Linked DNA regions of Homo sapiens. Each later gene encodes a partner of the first gene's protein in a complex. Each region holds a gene or a part of one and is shown on either strand. Other genes may lie near its edges. The genes, in order: GEMIN5, GEMIN2 and GEMIN4.

What was found.
Region 2: GEMIN5 (region 1) and GEMIN2 share a complex: the UniProt entries of both Homo sapiens proteins name them as parts of the SMN-Sm complex.
Region 3: GEMIN5 (region 1) and GEMIN4 share a complex: the UniProt entries of both Homo sapiens proteins name them as parts of the SMN-Sm complex.

The regions. Positions count from the first base shown.
Region 1 is NC_000005.10:154,886,834-154,893,241, forward strand, and holds the end of GEMIN5 (gem-associated protein 5), read right to left. Parts: intron 5,717-6,408; coding exon 5,554-5,716; intron 4,910-5,553; coding exon 4,408-4,909; intron 2,585-4,407; coding exon 2,488-2,584; intron 1,545-2,487; coding exon 1,377-1,544; 3' UTR 578-1,376; downstream 1-577. UniProt on the Homo sapiens protein: The SMN complex catalyzes the assembly of small nuclear ribonucleoproteins (snRNPs), the building blocks of the spliceosome, and thereby plays an important role in the splicing of cellular pre-mRNAs.
Region 2 is NC_000014.9:39,110,384-39,117,324, forward strand, and holds the start of GEMIN2 (gem-associated protein 2), read left to right. Parts: upstream 1-3,939; 5' UTR 3,940-3,955; coding exon 3,956-4,092; exon of another isoform or gene 4,093-4,445; coding exon 4,446-4,530; intron 4,531-5,305; exon of another isoform or gene 5,306-5,482; intron 5,483-6,941. UniProt on the Homo sapiens protein: The SMN complex catalyzes the assembly of small nuclear ribonucleoproteins (snRNPs), the building blocks of the spliceosome, and thereby plays an important role in the splicing of cellular pre-mRNAs.
Region 3 is NC_000017.11:749,265-757,326, forward strand, and holds the start of GEMIN4 (gem-associated protein 4), read right to left. Parts: upstream 3,001-8,062; 5' UTR 2,879-3,000; coding exon 2,869-2,878; exon of another isoform or gene 2,387-2,868; intron 985-2,386; exon of another isoform or gene 733-984; intron 646-732; exon of another isoform or gene 572-645; coding exon of another isoform or gene 550-571; intron 1-549. UniProt on the Homo sapiens protein: The SMN complex catalyzes the assembly of small nuclear ribonucleoproteins (snRNPs), the building blocks of the spliceosome, and thereby plays an important role in the splicing of cellular pre-mRNAs.

The DNA.
Region 1 (6,408 bases):
TGGTGTCCTACCAACTAGGCTAGGTTTTCTACCTAGCCATGCCTATTTATGTCTTTGCAATCAAGAAAGATTCTCCATCCCTGGTAACAAAGCATCGTCTTCCTAAAGTTCACTTCACTGTATGAAGAACTGTGAGGATCTAAATTCTACAGTATTTCCCTTTGTGAGTTTATTAAACTCTAATGCTAGGCACATACACGTCTTTGAAAACTGCCTCAAACTTTCTCCTTCCTGGGACTTCCTGTAAATGAATTTCATTCTCACTGTCCCAACAGCTCCAATCCTAGGAATTAATTGAAAAATAAACTACAAACGTGAGCAGAAAAGCCTTCACAATGAATCCTAGAGAAAACAGTTCAATTATCTGAAAGGAGTGTTCCTTCCTACACCCATGCCAGACTCTGATTTTCCCATGCTAGCAACTGTGACATTACAGAAACATCTGTTCCTGACACTGTTCAACTGTTTAAATAACCAAGGAGGAGAAAAAAAAGATTTATAATTAAATAGTATTTAGGGTCCCAATAGTCAGAGTCCAATAATCCAAAGGTCATCTATGCAAAATTAGGAATATGCATTTTTCTCCAAAGAGTATCTTTGGCTTTAATCTGATTCTCAAAAGGATCCTATGATCCAAGAAAGTTTAAGAACCATTGAAACAGTAATTTATTCCTGAGCTATTTGACTGCCATCAATCCATTTGTTATAAAACTGAAGGGAAAACACACATTTGAATCACTTCTTCTAAAGCTTTAGTAAGTGATCTGTTCAAATAAGCAATTACATGAAAGAATAAAACCAAATTTCCAACCTAAAATTCTGACAGGAGAGTCAACATGATGGTTAAGGCCTATTTCATATTCAAACTTCAGTCTATGAAAGAGTAGAGAGAGAAGGGTCTCCTCTTTCAAATTAAATATTATAAAAACAATTAAAAAAAGGTATCAATAGTCCTAAAATGCAGCAACTCCATCTCAAACAAGCATGACACACTTCTGATCAGATGAAGTATTTACAAAGGTAGCTTGTGTTTTAAGCATGTAACACTTTGGGTGACGACAGAAGTTTCTCCTCTTTGGGTGAAACCTGCCTAAGGCTGTAGAGATGACCAACACTCTGCAGGTGTTAGTTCTGAATAACTACTGTGGGCTTTTCATGATCTTCCCTCCAGTAGGAGACCACAATTGAGTCTAAAGTCAGATCCACCGTTGTCTATGGGTAGGCAGGGTTGATTCAAACTTAATCCTTGTTTGTATTCTTTTGGATTACTGCAAAAACATCTAGGGACCAGAGTGAATGTCTGGTGAGGCATAACTGCAGAGGTGAAAGATGTCAAACATTTTCAATTTGGCAGTTTCTTCAAGGTGTGTGAAAATTCACATACAGAAGGTCTGGCAGTGTCTTCTGTAAGTTTTCGTGTTGCCGTATTTCTGAAGGAGCTCTTGGGCCTGCTGCTGCATTTCCTGGGCCAGACAGCCAGGAAAGTGGGACCTGATGAGAAGCAGGACGAGGCAGCACTCCAGCACATCTGGGAAGGGCCAGGCCTGAAAGACGATGACATGAGGATGAATAAGGAAGCATTTGCAGAAGAGCCACAAACACCTGCACAGAAGGCACCAGTCACTCAGGTTCATCTATAGACACTTCTTGGACACAGCTGAGCCAGCTGTCTCCTAAGGCAATGTCCTGTCTTTCTCTTCAACAGTTACTCCAAGGAGAAATGACACTCAAAACTAGGATGGCTACTGCGATGTCCTTCTCAATGGCACAATCTCTTTCTACAGCCCTATGCAAATCCACCCTTAAAAATGGTGCTTCTATTAATATTTGGGCCCACAGCCAAAAAGACCTGTCCATCTGTAAGCTATCTAATACATGGCACCAATTTAAATTTTACTTCTTACCTATTAAATCTATTTGGTTTCTCTGAAGATTGAGGTATAAAATTACTTGTGTGATCGATAATTCTAGTCTCACAAAACATTCTAGCTAACCAAAGTAATTGGATTCTAAATTCTTTTTTTTTGTTTTGTTTTTTTTTTGAGACAGAGTCTCGCTCTGTTGCCCAGGCTGGAGTGCAGTGGCGTGATCTTGGCTCACTGCAAGCTCCGCCTCCTGAGTTCACGCCATTCTCCTGCCTCCATGCTATTCTCCTGCCTCAGCCTCCCGAGTAACTGGGACTACAGGCACCTGCCCCCACGCCCGGCTAATATTTTGTATTTTTAGTAGAGACGGGGTTTCACCATGTTAGCCAGGATGGTCTTGATCTCCTGACCTCATGATCCGCCAGCCTCAGCCTCCCAAAGCGCTGGGATTACAGGCGTGAGCCACCACGCCCAGCCTGGATTCTAAATTCTTAAGCACATATGAATGGGTAGAGATTTTAGAAACTGAACAGAGAGGTAGCTGACCTTTATAAGAATGTGGTATAGTCAAGTGATAACACAAAAAGTGATGCTTTACCAAATGAACTGCTTTAACTCTTACCTTAATGCTCTCAGGAAATTTCGCCATTCTCTGATTTGCCTCGGTAAGCCTTTTGGTTAACTCAGGCAGAGAAAGTGGCTCATTTTTTTCTTCTTTACTAGTGAAAAAAATAAAAGGTGTAAATTGTATGTCTTGCCCTGGGTAACATTTTTCTCCCATTGTTATTTTACTGTGGTAAAATGTATATAACATAAAGCTTACCATCTTAGCCATTTAAAAATACATAGTTCAGTGATTTTAAATAAATTCATAATGTGGTGAAAAACATCCCCACCACCCATTTCCAAAAACTCTTGTCATTTTGTAAAACTGAAATCTTATACCCATTAAACATTAACTTCTCATTCTGCTTCCCTTAGCCCCTGTCAACATTATTCTACTTTCTGTCTCTATAAATTTAACTATTTTGAGTAGTTCATATAAGTGGAGTCATATAGTATATGTCTTTTTGTGACTGGCTTATTTCACTCAGCATGATGTCCTCCCTTCGTAAGGCTGAATGACATTCCATTGTATGGATATGGCACATTTTGCTTATCCATTCATCTGTCAGTGGATACTTAGGTTGCTCCCGTGTTTTGGGTATTATGAATAATGCTGCCATGAACACAGGTGTGCACATATTTCAGACCCTGCTTTCAATTCTTTTGGGTGTATACCCAGATGTGGAAGTGCTGGATCCTATGGTCATTCTATTTTACATTTCTGGAGGAAGTGCTGCTGTACTGTTTTCCACAGTGGCTGCATCATTTTACATTCCCACCAATAGGCACAAGGGTTCCAATGTCTCTGCATCCTCCTCAACACTTGTTCTGTTTCTCTGATAGTAGCCTAATGGCTATGAAGTGCTGCTTCACTGTAGTTTTGATTTGCATTTCCCCAATGATGAGATGTTGAGCATCATTTCCTGTGCTTACTGGCTTTTTAGAGAAATGTCTATTCAAGTCCTTTGCCCATCCTTGAATTGGATTATCTTTTGTTATGCCTGGGTAGCTTTTACCTTTTATTTTTAATATTTTTTAAAAATTTAAACTTTTGCCTATGACACAGCCCTCAGGAGGCCCTGAGAGCATATGCCCCTGCCTGGGTTACTTTTATCTCATTTTATAAATAAAATTCCTTTGTCACCTGGCTTCTTAAAATTTAATTTTTTTTTTTTTTTTTTGTAGAGACAGGGTCTGTCAACCAGGCTGGTATGAGTGGCATGATCGTATCTCACTACAGCCTCGAACTCCTGGGCTTAAGTGATCCTCCCACCTCAGCCTCCTGAGTAGCTGGGACTACAAGTGCATGCCACCACTACTGGCTAATTTAAAAAAATTAATTTTTCTAGAGACAGGGTCTCAATATGTAGCCCAGGCTGAACTTGAGCTCCTGGCCTCAAGTGATCCTCCTGCCTCAGCCTCCTAAGTAGCTACAGGGTACATGCCACCACACCTGGTTACTTTATTTGTATTTTTTGAGATGAAGTCTCCCTCTGTTGCCCAGGCTGGAGTGCACTGGTGCGATTTTGACTCACTGCAACCTCTGCTGCCCAGGTTCAAACGATTCTCTGGCCTCAGCCCCCCAAGTAGCTGGAATTACAGGCATGTGCCACCATACCCAGCTAATTTTTAGTAGAGACGGGGTTTCACCATGTTGGCCAGGCTGGTCTCAAACTCCTTACTTCAAGTGATCTGCCCACCTCGGCCTCCCAAAGTGCTGGGATTACAAGCGTGATCCACTGTGCCCGGGCTTTTTTTTTTTTTTTTTTTTTGTAGAGACAGGGTCTCGCTTTTTTGCCCGGGCTGGTGGTGAACTCCTGGGCCAAGTGATCCTCCTGCTTCAGCCTCCCAAAGTGCTGGGATTATAGGCATGAACCACTGTTCCTAGCCAGCAGGGTCATTTTTCATTCCGTCTTGTACTTGCCTCAGTACTTACCACTGGCTCTGAGAACTGCAGAGGGGCTGCTCTGCTTCTACTTCCGGTTCATTCTTATCAGGACCATTTGCTGTGGATTTACAGAGTTGACTCTTTTGGTGTTGTCGGATCATTTCTGCCAAGGTCTCTTGGACTTCAGCAACAGTTCTCTGTGAGTTTTGGAGACTGGCATGCTTTTCTGAAAAGAGCTCCTTAAAAGTACTCAGCATTCGCTCACCTTCTTCTGTGAGTCTCAAGTCTAGTTCTGAAGGCCTGTTTGGCTCTGGCTGAGAAGTTTCAGGGTCCGTTTCTTCAGTGCTGGCAGTGTCTAACTGCTGGCTTGGCTCAACAGAGAGTGTTCTGTGACCAGCCCTTACCCAGACACTGGAATTTGGGCAAGGTCTGGAGAGAGACCACCAGAATTCATACAGACGCCCATAAAGAAAAAAGGCCTCCAAACTTTTGAAAGCTGGTGTGGCAGGGGATTGATGGTCCCCCAACTTGTCTCTTAGGTGGTCACAGCCTAGGAAAAGAGGAAAAAGATACTGGGTCATGCATTTCTCTAGTTGCCAGAAATGTGGCTTCCTGCCCTTATGTTCTATTTCTTATCAACCAAGAAGCAGACCCCAGGAAAAAGGACAACAGTGTGATCCACCGGGCCACATGCCTTTCCACCAAGAGCCAACTGGAGGCTAAACATTTCCTGGCTTGCGACAGTGTTCTCATTACTACATCCTAGGAGTCATTCAAAGCATGATAGAGTATTCCATTTGTACTACTGAAGGCTCTGGGGCCACGACAACAGATCACACTGTCTCTCTGAAAAATCACAATGATTTAGTTCAGTGACTGACTATGCAGCCCAAGGAATGTCTATCTTTTTTGCTGTTCTTTTCTGTTCTTACTAACATGTAACTACATTCCTATTTCTCTCTCCCTTAAACTTTGTGGAAAGTGGACAGGAGGCTGTAAGAGGGTAGGGCCAGGTAAAGGAAACAGTATAGTTGTTCTTAAAAGCTTCGGTAAGAGAATCCAAACTTTCTACTAAAATGACACAGCTGGCCAATCTCCATCTTTTAAGAATCTAGGTACTCCCAGTGCCACACCACTAATGGTGGTGATGTTGTCCATTAAAGGGTGTGCCTCAGGCAGCAGGAAGTCACTTACCGTCAGGGAGAAAGGCTGAGTACACTTCCTGCATGATGGTGAAGCTCCCTGAGTCATAGCTCCGGACCACCGCCCGAAGGAGCGCCTGCACAGCCTCGTCCCAGGAGGCCATCTGTTGGCTCAGCACTGCCAGGGTCAAGTCATGGCAAATGTGAAGCAGGAGCTGGAGAGAGAAGCCAGAGTCTGAGTTAAACATCCTCCCACGGTAGGCGCAGAGGATGCCACCAAACTGTTCCTGTGAACCGCATTTGGAAACAAGTACACACAATTCACACTTTGAAAGTTCCTCTTGTCTCCGCCACCCATTTTTGCTTCCCACATCGGAAACTCTCATGTCTAGTTGCACAGCAGCACACACACGTCCCGGTGTTAAAGTCTGTTCACACTGAGAAAACACCTTTACATTTGCATTTAATTAAAACAAAAAGTGGGCCAGGCGCGGTGGCTCATGCCTGTAATCCCAGCACTTTGGGAGGCCAAGGTGGGCAGATCACAAGGTCAGGAGTTCAAGACCAGCCTGGCCAACATGGTGAAACCCCGCCTCTACTAAAAACACAAAAATTAGCCAGGCATGATGGCGCGTGCCTGTAGTCCCAGCTACTCGGGAGGCTGAGACAGAAGAATTGCTTGAACCCGGAAGGTGGAGGTTGTGGTGAGCTGAGATTGCGCCACTGCACTCCAGTCTGAGCATGAGAGTGAGACTCCCTCTCAAAACAAACAAACAAACAACAAAAACAAAAAGTGAGTTTCTGGAACTAAAAGCTGTAATTAAAAACAAAATAAAGGCTGGGTGCAGTTGCTCACACCTATAACCCCATCACTTTGGGAGGCTGAGGCGGGCGGATCACCCGAGGT
Region 2 (6,941 bases), on another chromosome or scaffold:
ATAACAATACTACCACTTAAATGGCCATGTATTGTGAAGACTAAACGAGATAATCCATGTAAAAGATTTAGCCCTGAGAAAGAGAAAAACAGCGCCGGAGGGCTGGAATGTGGCGAAACCCTGTGTCTCCTAAAAATACAAAAATTAGCCAGGTGTGGTGGCCTCAGAAGGCTGAGGCACAAGACTCGCTCAAACACAGGAGAGGCGGAGGTTGCTGTGAGCAAAGATCGCAACTACACTGCAGCCTGGGCAACAGGGCGACAGAGCAAGATTCTGTCTCAAAAAAAAAAAATCCCACCTAGAATGCCTTTTAAAATGTCAGTTTCTTAGCCCCACACCCCATCAACAGAAACAGAAGCTCTGGAAGAAATAGCTGTAAAATACAGGATTCCATATTTTAAATAATTTCTTCCAGTTTTTTTTTTTTTTTGGAGACTGAGTCTCACTCCATCGCCCAGGCTGGAGTACAGTGGTGCTATCTCGGCTCACTGCAACCTCTGCCTCCTGGGTTCAAGCAATTCTCCCACCTCAGCCTCCCAAGTAGCTGGGATTACAGGTGCACGCCACCATGCCCAGCTAATTTTTTGTATTTTTAGTAGAGACAGGGGTCTCACCATGATGGCCACGCTGATCTCAAACTCCTGATTTCAAGTGATCCACCTGCCTTGGCCTCCCAAAGTGCTGGGATTACAGGTGTGAGCCACCACGTCCAGCCGGATGACTCTTATACACACTAACATTTGAGAATAACTGAGCCACTTAAAGGGATAGAAAACACAGAGACATGGGAGGCTGAAGCAGCTAGATCATCTGAGGTCAGGAGTTTAAGACCAGCCTGGCCAACATGACAAAACCCGTCTCTACTAAAAATAAAAAAATTAGCCGGGCATGGTGGTGGGTGCCTATAATCCCAGCTCCTCAGGAGGCTGAGGCAGGAGAATCACTTGAACCCGGGAGGCACAGGTGGCAGTGAGCAGTACCACTGCACTCCAGCCTGGGTGACAGAGCGAGACTCCGTCTCAAAAAAAAAAAAAAAAAAAGGAAAATAATAAAAGAAAAGAAAACACAGAGACAGAGATAAACTGTAGTTGGCTGTGTAAGGTTGACTTAACAGATGCCTCCATCATCAATAAACAGCCACATCATCAATAAACACACAACAGAATGTTCTGTTCTCACAATCGTCATGTAACTCCTACAGCTAACCAATCGTGTGAGAAATACTGAAACAAGAATTTTTCCATCATAAACTAAAAACCGGCGATAAATCTCTAAAAACAGGGCACCAGAAGTAGTTCAGTACCTTAGGAATATTTCTTCCTGGGAATAGATGAAATGTTATTGTAGTTTCAGAAGTTCACCTTTCCAAATAGCGTTTTTTCAGAATAACTTCATCAACCAAATATAACTTATCTCATGTGTTCCATATTTCACTGAAGCATTAAAAAATACTTAGTGCAATTTCTGAAAACTTCACTCAAAAAATCATTACTAATTCTTTTAAATAAAATTAGATTTGAAGTAGCACGAAGCTATATTATTACCTCTTCTTTTGGAAAATAATTTATTATTATTTCCCAGGACAACCTTTGTTCCATTCTCCTATTGTCTCCTTTCTTCCTTAATCCATGCATAGTTCTGACACATACTTATGCACAAACTCCAATGTTAGCCATTGTTCCATTGGTAGTTGATTGGCAAGGTAACCTTTTCTCCAGAAAAAAATTGAAAGAAAATGCTAATAATTTACAGTAAAAAATAAAAATTAAAAAAAATGTATTTGTGGCCTGGCCCAGTGGCTCACACCTGTAATCCCAGCACTTTGGTAGGCCAAGGTGAGTGGATCACTTGAGCCCGGGAGGTCAAGGCTGGGTAATATTTTATTTTATTTTATTTTATTTTATTTTTTTGAGATGGAGTTTTGCTCTTGTTGCCCAGGCTGGAGTGCAATGGCACAATCTGGGCTCCCTGCCACCTCCGCCTCCTGGATTCAAGCGATTCTCCTGCCTCAGGCTCCCAAGTAGCTGGGATTACAGGCGCCCACCACCATGCCCAGGTAGTATTTTGTATTTTTACCAAAGACGGGGTTTCACCATGTTGGCCAGGCTGGTCTCGAACTCCTGACCTCAAGTGATGTGCCCAGCTCGGCCTCCCAAAGTGGTGGGATTACAGGCATGAGCCACTGCGCCTGGCCAAGATTCTTTACGGATGCAAAATTTCCTCCACAAAGAACAGCTTTGCAGGGCCATTTCAAAATACGGCAAAGAAACATGTTTTGGGGTCAAATATTTTTATTTTCTTCTTTGTCTCGTAATGTCATTTCGAAGTGAGGTTGAAAAGTAAATCGTGATATATAGGGTTAAATAAAACCCATCTGATGAGAATTTATGATTTGTAGGGCATGACTCCCCAGACCCCTTAGATAGGAATTTGGGCAAAATAAAAAAATCAGGCCGGGCGCGGTGGCTCATGCCTGTAATCCCAGCACTTTGGGAGGCCGAGGCGGGTGGATCACGAGGTCAGGAGATCGACATCATCCTGGCTAACAAGGTGAAACCCCGTCTCTACTAAAAATACAATAAATTAGCCGGGCGTGGTGGCGAGTGCCTGTAGTCCCGGCGGCTACTCGGGAGCCTGAGGCAGGAGAATGGCGTGAACCCGGGAGGCGGAGCTTGCAGTGAGCCGAGATTGCGCCACTGCACTCCAGACTGGGCGACAGAGCGAGACTCCGTCTCAAAAAAAAAAAAAAAAAAATTCAGTTTAGTCCTCACGTCACTACTTACTTTTTCAAATTTGTCCTTGATTATCACCAAAATGTTGGACGACAGGAGTATTTCTCCCTATTCTAAGTCTGTTTTTCCCAAAACCAGTGAAAATTTGTTAACCAAATAACTGTAGTTTGCAGCCAGGTGATATCTTTCCAAGTGTCCCAATTGTTTAGTTACAGTTCCTAAGCATTAAGTACTTAAATAAGCTAAGGACTATCCTCACTTTATCTTCAATTTAGACTTACATCCTGGTTTGAAATCAATTCCTTGCAAACTAAAGGCAGTGCCATAAATAAAAATTTTTAACCTTCTAAAATAAACATCAGTGTTAGAAAATAAGTCAATTGTATTCACTCAATTGTATTTGTTTAGAAATAATCAGATATTATACTTGTTTCTTGCACATTCTTGCCTTGTTTCCTCACCTATGAAATGGAGATAATAATACTATCTACCTAACAAGATTGACCTAACATTTTTGTTAATTTCTGGGTGTTAGCATTAGTTTCATTTTTTTCACTATTTGTATTTAAACGAAGAGATTTTTCTTTAAAACAAAAATTAAAAAGTGCTGGCTATTCTAGGAGTAATATTCATTCCAAATAAACATACAGTGATCTTTGAAGTGGTCAAGCACTAGAAATTTCTGTAGAAAATTAATTTTTCATTCATTTGGCATCGCATAAATCTAGGTTGGAATTGGTTCTTCCTCTTTGGAAGGTCAGTCCCTGCCCTAAGAGAGCGGTATATTACCACCCACTTCACAAGACTGTTCTAAGAATCAAATGAGAAAATGTGTTTATGAAGAGTTTAAGAATTTAGAGCTCCATGAATGATAATTACAGTAATATTGTTCATTAATTCAAAAAACATTTTTAAGGATCCCTCACTACTAGGGATGCATAAAAGTTGCTAACCCTCGGCCTTTACCCAGCGTTAGAAGACAAAACAGAGGGTAAAAGTCCCAGAAACGCGTTCGAACCAATTCAGCTAGGAATTAAATTCTCAGATCCTTTATTACACCACCGGAGCCTTAACCTTGAGGCAAGCAGCAATTTGTTCATGCGCAGTTAACGCTCCCTAAACTGCCACTTGCTCAGCTCCGCGCCTAAGGTGTCTATTAGTACGCCTGCGCTGTGACCTAGAATGGGCGCATGCGCCGAGCGGAACTGGCTGGTTTGAAAACCATGGCGTGGGTACCAGCGGAGTCCGCAGTGGAAGAGTTGATGCCTCGGCTATTGCCGGTAGAGCCTTGCGACTTGACGGAAGGTTTCGATCCCTCGGTACCCCCGAGGACGCCTCAGGAATACCTGAGGCGGGTCCAGTGAGTGATTCGGCCCTGGGCGGGTGGGCTGGTCTTCTGCCCTGCCCCTGGGTACAGCCCTCGGTGCTCTATTCCCGTTCCAGTCTGTTGCGAGTTCAGGTCTATTCAGGATTCTGGATTACATCCTAACGTGGGCGAGTTTCTGTTGAACGTGATTGCACGTATCAAGATGTGTGCTCTTAGATTTGTTTTCAATCCAGATAATTTCAGAAATACATTGTTTAGTACCTCAATTGGAAGTCTGAATTTTTTTCTGATTTCACAATGAACTGTGGAAGTGGATCGCTTGTTTTACTACACCTGAGCAAAGCACAACAGAAATTTAATTTATCGCGTTTATTACTTATTTGTAGGATCGAAGCAGCTCAATGTCCAGATGTTGTGGTAGCTCAAATTGACCCAAAGAAGTTGAAAAGGAAGCAAAGTGTGAATATTTCTGTGAGTTTTATTAACCGTCTGGAGATTACCCCCAACCCCCCAATTAAAAGACTAACGCTCTTCCTATAGTATCTGACAGCATCAATTATGACGTAAGATTTGACTACTCCGTGCAAAGTTAGACATTCGCTTGTACTTTTTCCTTCAGAAAGACAATTGGCATTTACTGCCTCTAAAGAGGCTTTCTGTAACTCTAGCCTTTGTGGAGTGTTGCCCATCTTACTTCAGGACATTATCCAGTCCTTTCAAAGGAGTCTTTAAATGGGTTACTTATGTTATCTTTTATTTTTTGCTTGTTTGTTTGTTTATAGAGAGGGAGTCTCTGTTGCCAGCTGGTCTGGAACTCCTGGCCTCAAGTGATCCTCCCTCCTCTGCCACCCAAAGCGTTGGGATCACAGGCGTGAGCCACCTCACCTGGCCCCTTTATTTTTTAAGGAACTTTTTCCAGTTATTGGATTGGTGTTTAATCTTAGTGTGCTTTGCATGTTCTGAATTTGACCAAGTTTCACTTTTTTTAAGAATAGAAACCCAGATGTCTTACACTTTTTTTTTTTTTTTTTTTGAGACAGTTTCACTCTTGTTGCCCAGGCTGCAGTGCAGTGGTGCGATCTCAGCTCACTGCAACCTCTGCCTTCCGGTTTCAAGCGATTACCGTGCCTCAGCCTCCCGAGTAGCTGGGATTACAGGCGCCCACCACCACACCCGGCTAATTTTTGTATTTTTAGTAGAGACGGGGTTTCACCATGTTGTCCAGTCTGGTCTTGAACTCCTGACCTCGTGATGCGCCCACCTCTGCCTCCCAAACTGCTGGGATTACAGGTGTGAGCCACCATACCCGGCCTTACACTTTTATAGCTACTTGCACACTCTGGACATTTTCATTTATTTATTTATCCAGCACATCTTTAATTAAGCAACTAGGTTGTGCCGGGCATTGGGAATTCAACAGAGGGTAAGACAAAAAAGGTTCCTACCCTTGTAGAGTTTACATACCCTCCTGAGGAAGACAGAGAGTAAACAAGCAAACAAATAATTACATATTGTGATTATTGCTATGAAGAAAATAAGCATGTATAATAATCAATAAATGACAGAACTACTGTAGAGGAATCATAGAAGGGCTCTCTTTTTCCCCCTTTTTTTTTTGCGTCTCAATTTTTCGCCCAGGCTGGAGTGCAGTGGCACAATCTCAGCTCATCACAACCTCTGCCTCTCAGGTTCAAGAGCTTCTCTTGCCTCAGCCCCCTGAGTAGCTAGGATTACAGGCGTGTGCCACCACACCTGACTAATTTTTGTATTTTTAGTAGAGACGTGGTTTTACCATGTTGGCCAGGCTGGTCTCAAACTCCTGACCTGAAGTGATCTGCCTGCCTCTGCCTCCTAAAGTGCTGGGATTACAGATGTGAGCCACCACGCCTGGCCAGCAAAGGTCTCTCTAAGGAGGTGCTATTTAACCTAAGCTCAAAGGAGGGTGGCATTTTATTTTATTTCTTTTTCTTTTTTTTTTTTTTTTGAGATGGAGTCTCAGAGTCTCGCTCTGTCGCCCAGGCTGGAGTGCAGTGGCGCGATCTCGGCTCACTGCAACCTCTGCCTCCCGGGTTCACACCATTCTCCTGCCTCAGCCTCCCGAGTAGCTGGGACTACAGGCGCCTGGGAGAGTGGCATTTTAAATAGTTGATAGTAATTTCCTTTTCATGCTCAAAGTAGTTTCTCTGATACTTGTAATCAGGAAATTTTAATTCAGACACTGTAATTTTTCCTATAATTCCTCTTCAGGGTTTTTTAGTTGATGGACATTTAATGGAACAGAATGTCTTAATATACCTAATTTGATGGATTGATTGATTGATTGATTGAGACAGGGTCTCGCTTTGTTGCACAGGCCAGAGTACAGTGCCACGATCATAGCTCACTGCAGCCTCGAGTTCTTGGGCTCAAGCCATCCTCCCACCTCAGTCTCCCCAGTAGCTGAGATGACAAGCATGTGCCACCGTGCCCAGCTAATTGTATTTTTTGTAGCGACGGGGTCTTGATATGTTGCTCAGGCTGTATGTGCTCTTTTAGAAAACAGAAGTATGGCTGGGCTTAGTGGCTCACACCTGTAATCCCAGCACTTTGGGAGGCCAAGTCAGGCGGATCACCTGAGGTGGGGAGTTCAAGACCAGCCCGACCAACATGGAGAAACCCCATCTCTACTAAAAATACAAAATTAGCCGGGTGTGGTGGCACATGCCTGTAATCCCAGCTACTCGGGAGGCTGAGGCAGGAGAATTGCTTGAACCCGGGAGACGGAGATTGCAGTGAGCTGAGATGGCCATTGCACTCCAGCCTGAGCAACAGGAGCGAAACTCCGTCTCAAAAAAAAAAAAAAAGAAAACAGAAGTAGACAATTTAAAGTTAAGCGTCTTTAA
Region 3 (8,062 bases), on another chromosome or scaffold:
CAGCAGCAATCACACGGCCACAGGGTAATGGGCACAGCAGCAGTCACACGGCCACAGGGTAATGGGCACAGAGCAATCACACGGCCACAGGGTAATGGGCACAGCAGCAATCACACGGCCACAGGATAATGGGCACAGCAGCAATCACACAGCCACAGGGTAATGGGCACAGAAGCAATCACACGGCTACAGGATAATGGGCACAGAGCAATCACACAGCCACAGGATAATGGGCACAGAGCAATCACACAGCCACAGGATAATGGGCACAGCAGCAATCACACAGCCACAAGGTAATGGGCACAGCAGCAATCACACGGCTACAGGGTAATGGGCACAGAGCGATCACACGGCCACAGGATAATGGGCACAGAGCAATCACACAGCCACAGGGTAATGGGCACAGCAGCAATCACGCAGCCACAGGGTAACGGGCACAGCAGCAGTCACACAGCCACAGGGTAATGGGCACAGAGCAATCACATAGCCACAGAGCAATGGGCACAGAAGGAATCAGACAAGCCCTGCCTTCACTCTTTATAAACTTGCCTTGGGAACAGGCTTCAAACATTCTTCTAGCTTTCAGGGAAACGGTCCACCCCACAGCTCCTTCCAGTCAAAAACAAGGTACTCATGGCCCTAGCTCTGTGGGAGAAACCAGGGAGTAGATACAGAAAATACTGTGCTAGATTAAGCCTTCCTTCAGGGAACTAACGATTGACACAGACTTACCATGGAAAACATCTTGGGATGTTTAATCAGACATGGGTTTAAATCCTAGTTCAGCCATTTAAAAATGATGTGATTCTGGCCAGGTTCAGTGGCTAGCACTTGTAATCCCAGCTACTTGGGGGGCTGAGGCAGGTGGATCCCTGAGGCCAGGAGTTCAAGACTAGCTGGGGTAACACAGTGAGACTCCCCCTCCATCTCCGAAAAAAAAAAAGGGATGTGATCTTGGTCAGATTGCTTCTCCAAGCCTTCCTTCTGCATATGTGGGGATAATACAGACTTCATGTTATGCCTTTGGGGATCATGTGATATATACCAGTCAAGCCCTTGCTAGTGGGTTGGCACTGCTATCTCCTGACCCCATCTCCCCGGGACGCTATGATGGATAAATGAGATAGAGCTACAGTAAGAATCCAGTTACAGAGTCTAATTAGGTGCTCAGTAAATGTTGGTTTCCCCAAACCTTTTCATGGTTGGCAAGACCAGAATCTTGTCACTATTCTTTGCCTCCCCCAGCTCAGAAACATCAAAGGATGTAGGTCTTTATCAGGTATGTTTCCTTTGGCCCAGAAACTAAAACGAGGGTGCAAACACTGCTCCCTATTCCTCATTCCTGAGTCATCTCCCCTTTCCCAGGAGTGAGAGATGCTACTCCTTCCTCAGTCTGTCATGCCCCCAAGAGCTCATATTCCCCATTTTCACAGGCCAGACACCAGCAGAGAAAACACTGACTCCAGGAGACTAAGGACCATCTTACCCCTCCCACCATTTATGGGAGCGGCAGCAGGCCAAGGGCTCAGCACTATGTAACCCACTTGTGGAGGCAATCCATCTCATCTCACAGTGGCTGAGACCGACTCCCAGGGAGGGTTACGCTGCGAAGGGGACCTCCCTGGGGGTTACCGCCCTTCTTTCTGGCTCAGGAGGCTCTCCCAGGGTCCCAAAATATAGTCCCTCCTGACGCTGTAAATTTAATTTTATTGCATTATTGGCTTAGTTGAGCAGATGTTTGGCCCTAAACACCTGCCTTCCAGGCGCATTAAGTACGCACAGTTTGAAGTAGTAAGTCCCAGGGCGGTTACTAGCTGGAAAATACTCCGGTACTCTATCATGGATGGTTAACTAGTGCTTGCCACAGCCCGCTTCTTAGGTTTATTAAGCACCTACTCCATGCCAGACACTGTGCTAGGTGGTACACAGGTAAGATCTCTTCTATTCACAATCACCTTTTGAGGACTAGTATTCCTGCTCTAGAGATAAGGACACTGAGGCGCAGAAACGATTTGCTGAGGGTGTCCCAGCCTGAATGTGGTGGGGCTGGGAAGCAATTACGGCTGAGGGGCTCCAAGCCCTTAGAGCTCTGCCATTCCGCTCCTGAAAAGCTGTCTGGGGGCGGGGACCAGACCATTTCCCCCCAGCCTACTACTGCTGACACATCTCGGGGTGCCTCACCCCCAGCTCTCCCAGAACAGCCTCCTGGTCTTAGCAGCGTGTGCCAAGATTTAGCAGGGAGCATCTAGTTCCTATGGGCTCCCTCCCAGACCTTGCCTGTAAGATTCTGAATCCGGACGCACGCAGGTTCACAAAGTGATACCTCAGGAGCGCAGCCGCCCCCACCGCGGGTGTGACCCGCGCAACCCCACAAGGGACACTGTACCTCGGCGATCTCAATGCAAAGTCGCCCAAAACTCAGTGGGGAGACACACTTCCATTCTCCCCGCTCTGTCGATGAGGAAACGTCATGAGCGTAAGACACTTGGAGCGTTAAGACACTTGCTCAAGAACGCAGCTGCCGTTCAGGAAATGAGGCCGTCGGGGCGCCCAGGGGTGCTCGGAGGGAGCCCGTTTCCCAAAGCACGTGCGCGAGCCCCGGGCGCTTCCAAGGGCTCTAACTTCACGTCTGCTCCGTGTTTTCAAGCGCAGGGGGCCGGAGGCGGCAAGACGCGGCCCAACGCGCGGCGGGACCCGGACCACCCCCCGCCAAGGCCACCCCGGGACCCCTAGACCCGCCCCGACGCGGGGGACGTTTCGGTCCGGGCCCGCGCGAGCGTGCGCGACAGGAGGAGACGCGACGGGGCAGCACCGCTCTGGTGGCGCATTGCTGGACGCAGCCCGGGGCCGGGGAGCCGCGGCACCCACCTAGGTCCATGGCGGCGACGCCGGCGGCTGCGCGGGGCTAACGCCCCCTCCCCTCCGAGAACTCGAACGCGGCGCGGGACGCACGGCACGATGGGAGACGCAGGAGCCACGGCGGCCGCGCTTAGGCCTGCTCACAACCTCCGCCCGGCCCCGCCCACAGCCTCCGCCGCGCACGCGCAGTCCTCACGAACGAGCGCGCCAAGCGCACAGCGCCGCCTTCCGGCAGAGCCCTCCCACCAGCCCTCAGGTACCCGGACGTCGCTCACTAGACCCCTCCGCACCGTCCCCTGCCCGGCCCCTCTTCCGGGGTCCCAGCGGGTCGGGCTCATGATTCCCCGGCCCCGCATTCACCCTCACCCGGTAACCCCGGGCGTGCCCCGCACACAGTTCACCCCCACCGAGCGCCTCCCCCGGGACGCCCACCACCCAGCGCGGCCGCACCACGCGAGGCTTCCACTCCCACCCGCCCAGCTCGCGCCACATACAGTCCCTCAACGCGCTCCTGCCGCGCCGCCCCCTCCAGACAGCAGCGTTCCGGATCCTAGACGCTTTTTGACGGCTGGTCCTCCCCAGAAAATGCGCCGTGTGAGCCCAAACATGGTGGGGTTTACGCTGGACCCCGAGCTTGCAATCTGTGCTTGACAAAACACAAACATCGCGTGCCTGTCTCCTCCCCCTGAGATCGAGTAGTAACAGCCACTCCAACTCTCCACCTCCAGCTTCTAGCACCAGGGACCGCCTCCACCACCCCATGTGCCAAGTGGAGTTCGAGCTGCGCGGCCCTCAAGCAGCTGAAGGGTCCCGTGAGCGATCAGGAGAAGCTGCTGGTCTACGGCTTGTACAAACAGGCCACCCAGGGCGACTGCGACATCCCCGGCCCTCCGGCCTCAGACGTGAGAGCCAGGGCCAAGTGGGAGGCTTGGAGCGCGAAAAAAGGGGCGTCCAAGATGGACGCCATGAGGGGCTACGCGGCCAAAGTGGAGGAGCTGACGAAGAAGGAAGTGGGGGGCGTGGAGCGCGAACAAAGGGGCGTGCAAGATGGACGCCATGAGGGGCTACGCGGCCAAAGTGGAGGAGCTGACGAAGAAGGAAGTGGGGGGCGTGGAGCGCGAACAAAGGGGCGTCCAAGATGGACGCCATGAGGGGCTACGCGGCCAAAGTGGAGGAGCTGACGAAGAAGGAAGTGGGGGGCGTGGAGCGCGAACAAAGGGGCGTCCAAGATGGACGCCATGAGGGGCTACGCGGCCAAAGTGGAGGAGCTGACGAAGAAGGAAGTGGGGGGCGTGGAGCGCGAACAAAGGGGCGTCCAAGATGGACGCCATGAGGGGCTACGCGGCCAGAGTGAGGAGATGAGGAAGAAGGAGGCTGGCTGAGGGCTCCTCGGGAATGGAAAGGGCTTCTTAGACCTTGATGGCTGAAATGTCCTGAAACTGTCGCAAGCTTAGCCGAGACATCAATAAATCACTTAAACTGCATGAGAGTGACTGCTGTTGGAAAGGAGAAACTCGGTGACTGAGTGCTGGGGAGGCGTCCAAATACACAGACTAACTTTTTGTATGGTTTTGGGTGGAGTTCCCAGCTCTCCTATTACAAGAGCGTATGTAGGTATTTGGAAGGACGAGGGGGACAGTGTGCTGTGGAAATGCCCAAGATCTGAGGGCAGGAGACCATTCTCCAGTGACAGCCTCTTGGGAGGTTGAGGCCCCAGCCCCTTATCTCTTCAAGGCTGATTTACTAATACCCCAGCACCACAGAGGGGAGAGGGACTCTGTCCTCCTAAACACTAAAGTCAAGTCCAAAAGCCCCCACTGGAACACAGGGCCTACCCGGTTCATGTTTTGAGGGAGACCAAGCTTTCCGTGATGATAATGTGATGAAACAATTGATGCGCCAGAACACAGCAGTTTAGAAACAATGGAGCAGATGGTGTCAAAATCCCAGCCCCAGAAAGGCTCACCTAAGGCCGGGCAACCAAAATGTTCCCGGGACTATTCTGTACTTAACCCTGGTTTCTGCTTAGGGGACGGTGGGACAATATGCATATGGATGTCTATGTGGGATTTGTTGCAAGAGCACAACACACCCCTTGACCTATGCAAGTGCCAGAGTGTCTGAGCCCAGCTTCTACTCCTGTTAATGATCACAGGAGCCTCATACACAACCATTGTGCATGGCGGCTGGAGTATGGAGTAGTAAATGGTATCCAGAAAGGCAGGTCTACGGTGGCATATGGGATTTCCTGGTACTTCTTCTTTAATAGAAACTATCTTCACAGATCATGACATCAGGTCAGCTGCAGTTCTCACTGGGACCAATAAACAATAGAAGCAACAACCATAAAGACTTAAGAGGACAAAGGAAACCAAACCTCACTGTGTGTCTTCAAGATCTGTTCACATAGTTGCAGGAAGTTGCTGTAGACAAAGTACATTACTAAAGAATGAAGCCCACCCAGGACATCACAGCAACGAAAGAACTATTTCTGGTAACTGTGGACCAGGTGAGAGCCACACTGTAGAACAGCAGTGCTGCCCTCTCTTCTTTGGCGAATGTTATGAAGACATTCTGATGCACTTAGGATCATGATTCATGTTAAATGTAAATTAATTGTAAAAATAATACATCTTGCTCCAAAATGTGGTGACAATTTAGAAGCTGTCCACATAGCCAGACCACTCTGTAAATCACAGAACCTAGAAAGTAAAAATGTGCCATAATTAGGACAGCAGAAAGTAACAGTAAAATAAAGTTTTAAAAAAAAAAACAGAAAATAAGGATTTATCTATTTGTATTTGCTTAAGAAGAGGTTACCTATAGGATGCAGGGGGAATGGGATTGATGGGCATGGGGTATACTGTGAAAGGAAAATAAAATCTTGGGACCAAATTCACTAAGCGAAAAGGAAAAGTTAAGCTTGGAAATTGAGTCATGGAATATGCAAAAAACTTCCTTTTGTTCCTAAACAGATAAGCTACAAGACAGAAGGCCACATATCTCCCCAGGTGGTCTCCCTCACCTGACAATATAAATTAACAGCTTATCTTCATAGGTAAGGGACAAAGACAACACCAGAAACCATCCCTCACCAGCCGAGACAAAACATAGATGTACTGAGCTGAATGCATAACTGTTCCTCTGCCTGCTGCTTTCACTGTAACATATAGATTTGGTGAGCAGTAAATGTAGATTTACTGAGCTGAATGCATAACTGTTCCTCTGCCCGCTCCTTTCACTGTAACATGTAGATTTGGTGAGCGCTAAATGTAGATTTACTGAGCTGAATGCATAACTGACTGTTCGTCTGCCCGCTCCTTTCACTGTAACATGTAGATTTGGTGAGCACTAAATGTAGATTTACTGAGCTGAATGCATAACTGAGTGTTCCTCTGCCCGCTCCTTTCACTGTAACATGTAGAGTTGGTGAGCGCTAAATGTAGATTTACTGAGCTGAATGCAAAACTGACTGTTCCTCTGCCTGCTCCTTTCACTGTAACATGTAGATTTGGTGAGTGCTAAATGTAGACTTACTGAGCTGAATGCGTAACTGTTCCTCTGCCCGCTCCTTTCACTGTAACATGTAGATTTGGTGAGCACTAAATGTAGATTTACTGAGCTGAATGCAAAACTGACTGTTCCTCTGCCTGCTCCTTTCACTGTAACATGTAGATTTGGTGAGTGCTAAATGTAGATTTACTGAGCTGAATGCAAAACTGACTGTTCCTCTACCCCCTCCTTTCACTGTGACATGTAGATTTGGTGAGCGCTGATCAAAGCCTAATAAGAATGTAACCACTTATCTCCCTACCTACCCTCCTGTATTTTTCCTTTCCCTCTTCCCTCCCTTCCTGCTCTTTCCCTTTTAAATACTTGTTAGGAATAATGCTCAAAATCCTAAGGAAATAGAACACTCGAACAAAGGATTCTTAGCAAAGCAATTTTACTTCTGTGCAGAGGGGTGCCTCCTTGGCCAGTTGTCATGAGAGCACACCTGAACAAAGGGGCACGAGAGCCTTTGTTCCTGACACAAGTCCTGCCCCTCTACCCTTTCCCCATTGGCCGGGGTCAGGTCGTACAATCTAAACTAATCGCGCTTGGCTAAACATTTGATTTTTTTAGATAGGGTGGGCCCGTAAAAGAAAGCGGAGAGGAAGGGGAAGGGGTGTCTGTAATGAGCTAGAAAGTTAGTCCTCTTTCCAAATAAGGAAAGGAATGTGAGCTGGTACTGATAACGCCTGGTGCTGTGGCGTGCCTGGGCATCTCACAAAGGCAAAAAGGGAAAAGGAGAAAAAGGGGGCGGGGCGCTATGAATTAAAGAATAAAAGATTGATCAGATTATTTGAAGAGAAACGTCGTCATATCCCACATACTGAGGCCCTAAAAATCCTCTCTGGAAAGTGTGCGGGGGCCACAGATCTGTGGTTGTGTCTCAGGCACATCCTCAGCCTTGGCAAAATAAACCTCTAAATGGGCGAGACTTGTCTCAGACACTTACCCGGTTTACAATACCTTTTCATATTGTTTTCATTTTTGAACCATGTGGCTCTATTGCTTTATATAAAGAGGATGAGGCAAGGGCACTTCTTTATTATCATTGAAGTCAGAGTAAATTTACTATTGATTTCCCCTGAGGTTGGGGTAAGAACTCTTAGAACAAACAGGGAAACTTCTCAACTCTTACCCTGAATTTCAACGGACACGTTGGAGGTCTCCTGAAAACTCTGGCTGCTAAGTCACAGCGGCACTGAGTGGCAGGTGAGAGAGCCAGAAAGCCACATGAAGGAGCACTCACCGTCCCTAGGTTTGTTAATTCCGGTAACATGTCAGACGGACACGGACTTCAGACAGTCCTGCAGGCTAACTAGGAGAGCTCTGGCAACACGGCCGTTCTAAGTCTTCCCGGAGATTTAACTCAAGGCACACTTGTATTTACATGTAGGCTCCACAACCCCTTGATTCAAAAAAACAACTCTGGAGAAGCTGAAGAACTTTCCAACTTCATCTGTTTGAAACAACAGCTTGCAGCCTGAACAACGCAGTGAGACGGTCGCTACAAAAGATCAAAACGTTGGCTGGGTGTGGTGGCACGTGGCTGTGGGCCCAGCCATTCGGGAGGCTGAGGTGGGAGGATCTCTTGAGCCCCAGAGGTCAAGGCTGCAGAAAGCCACGATGGTGCCCCACTGCACTCCACCCTGCG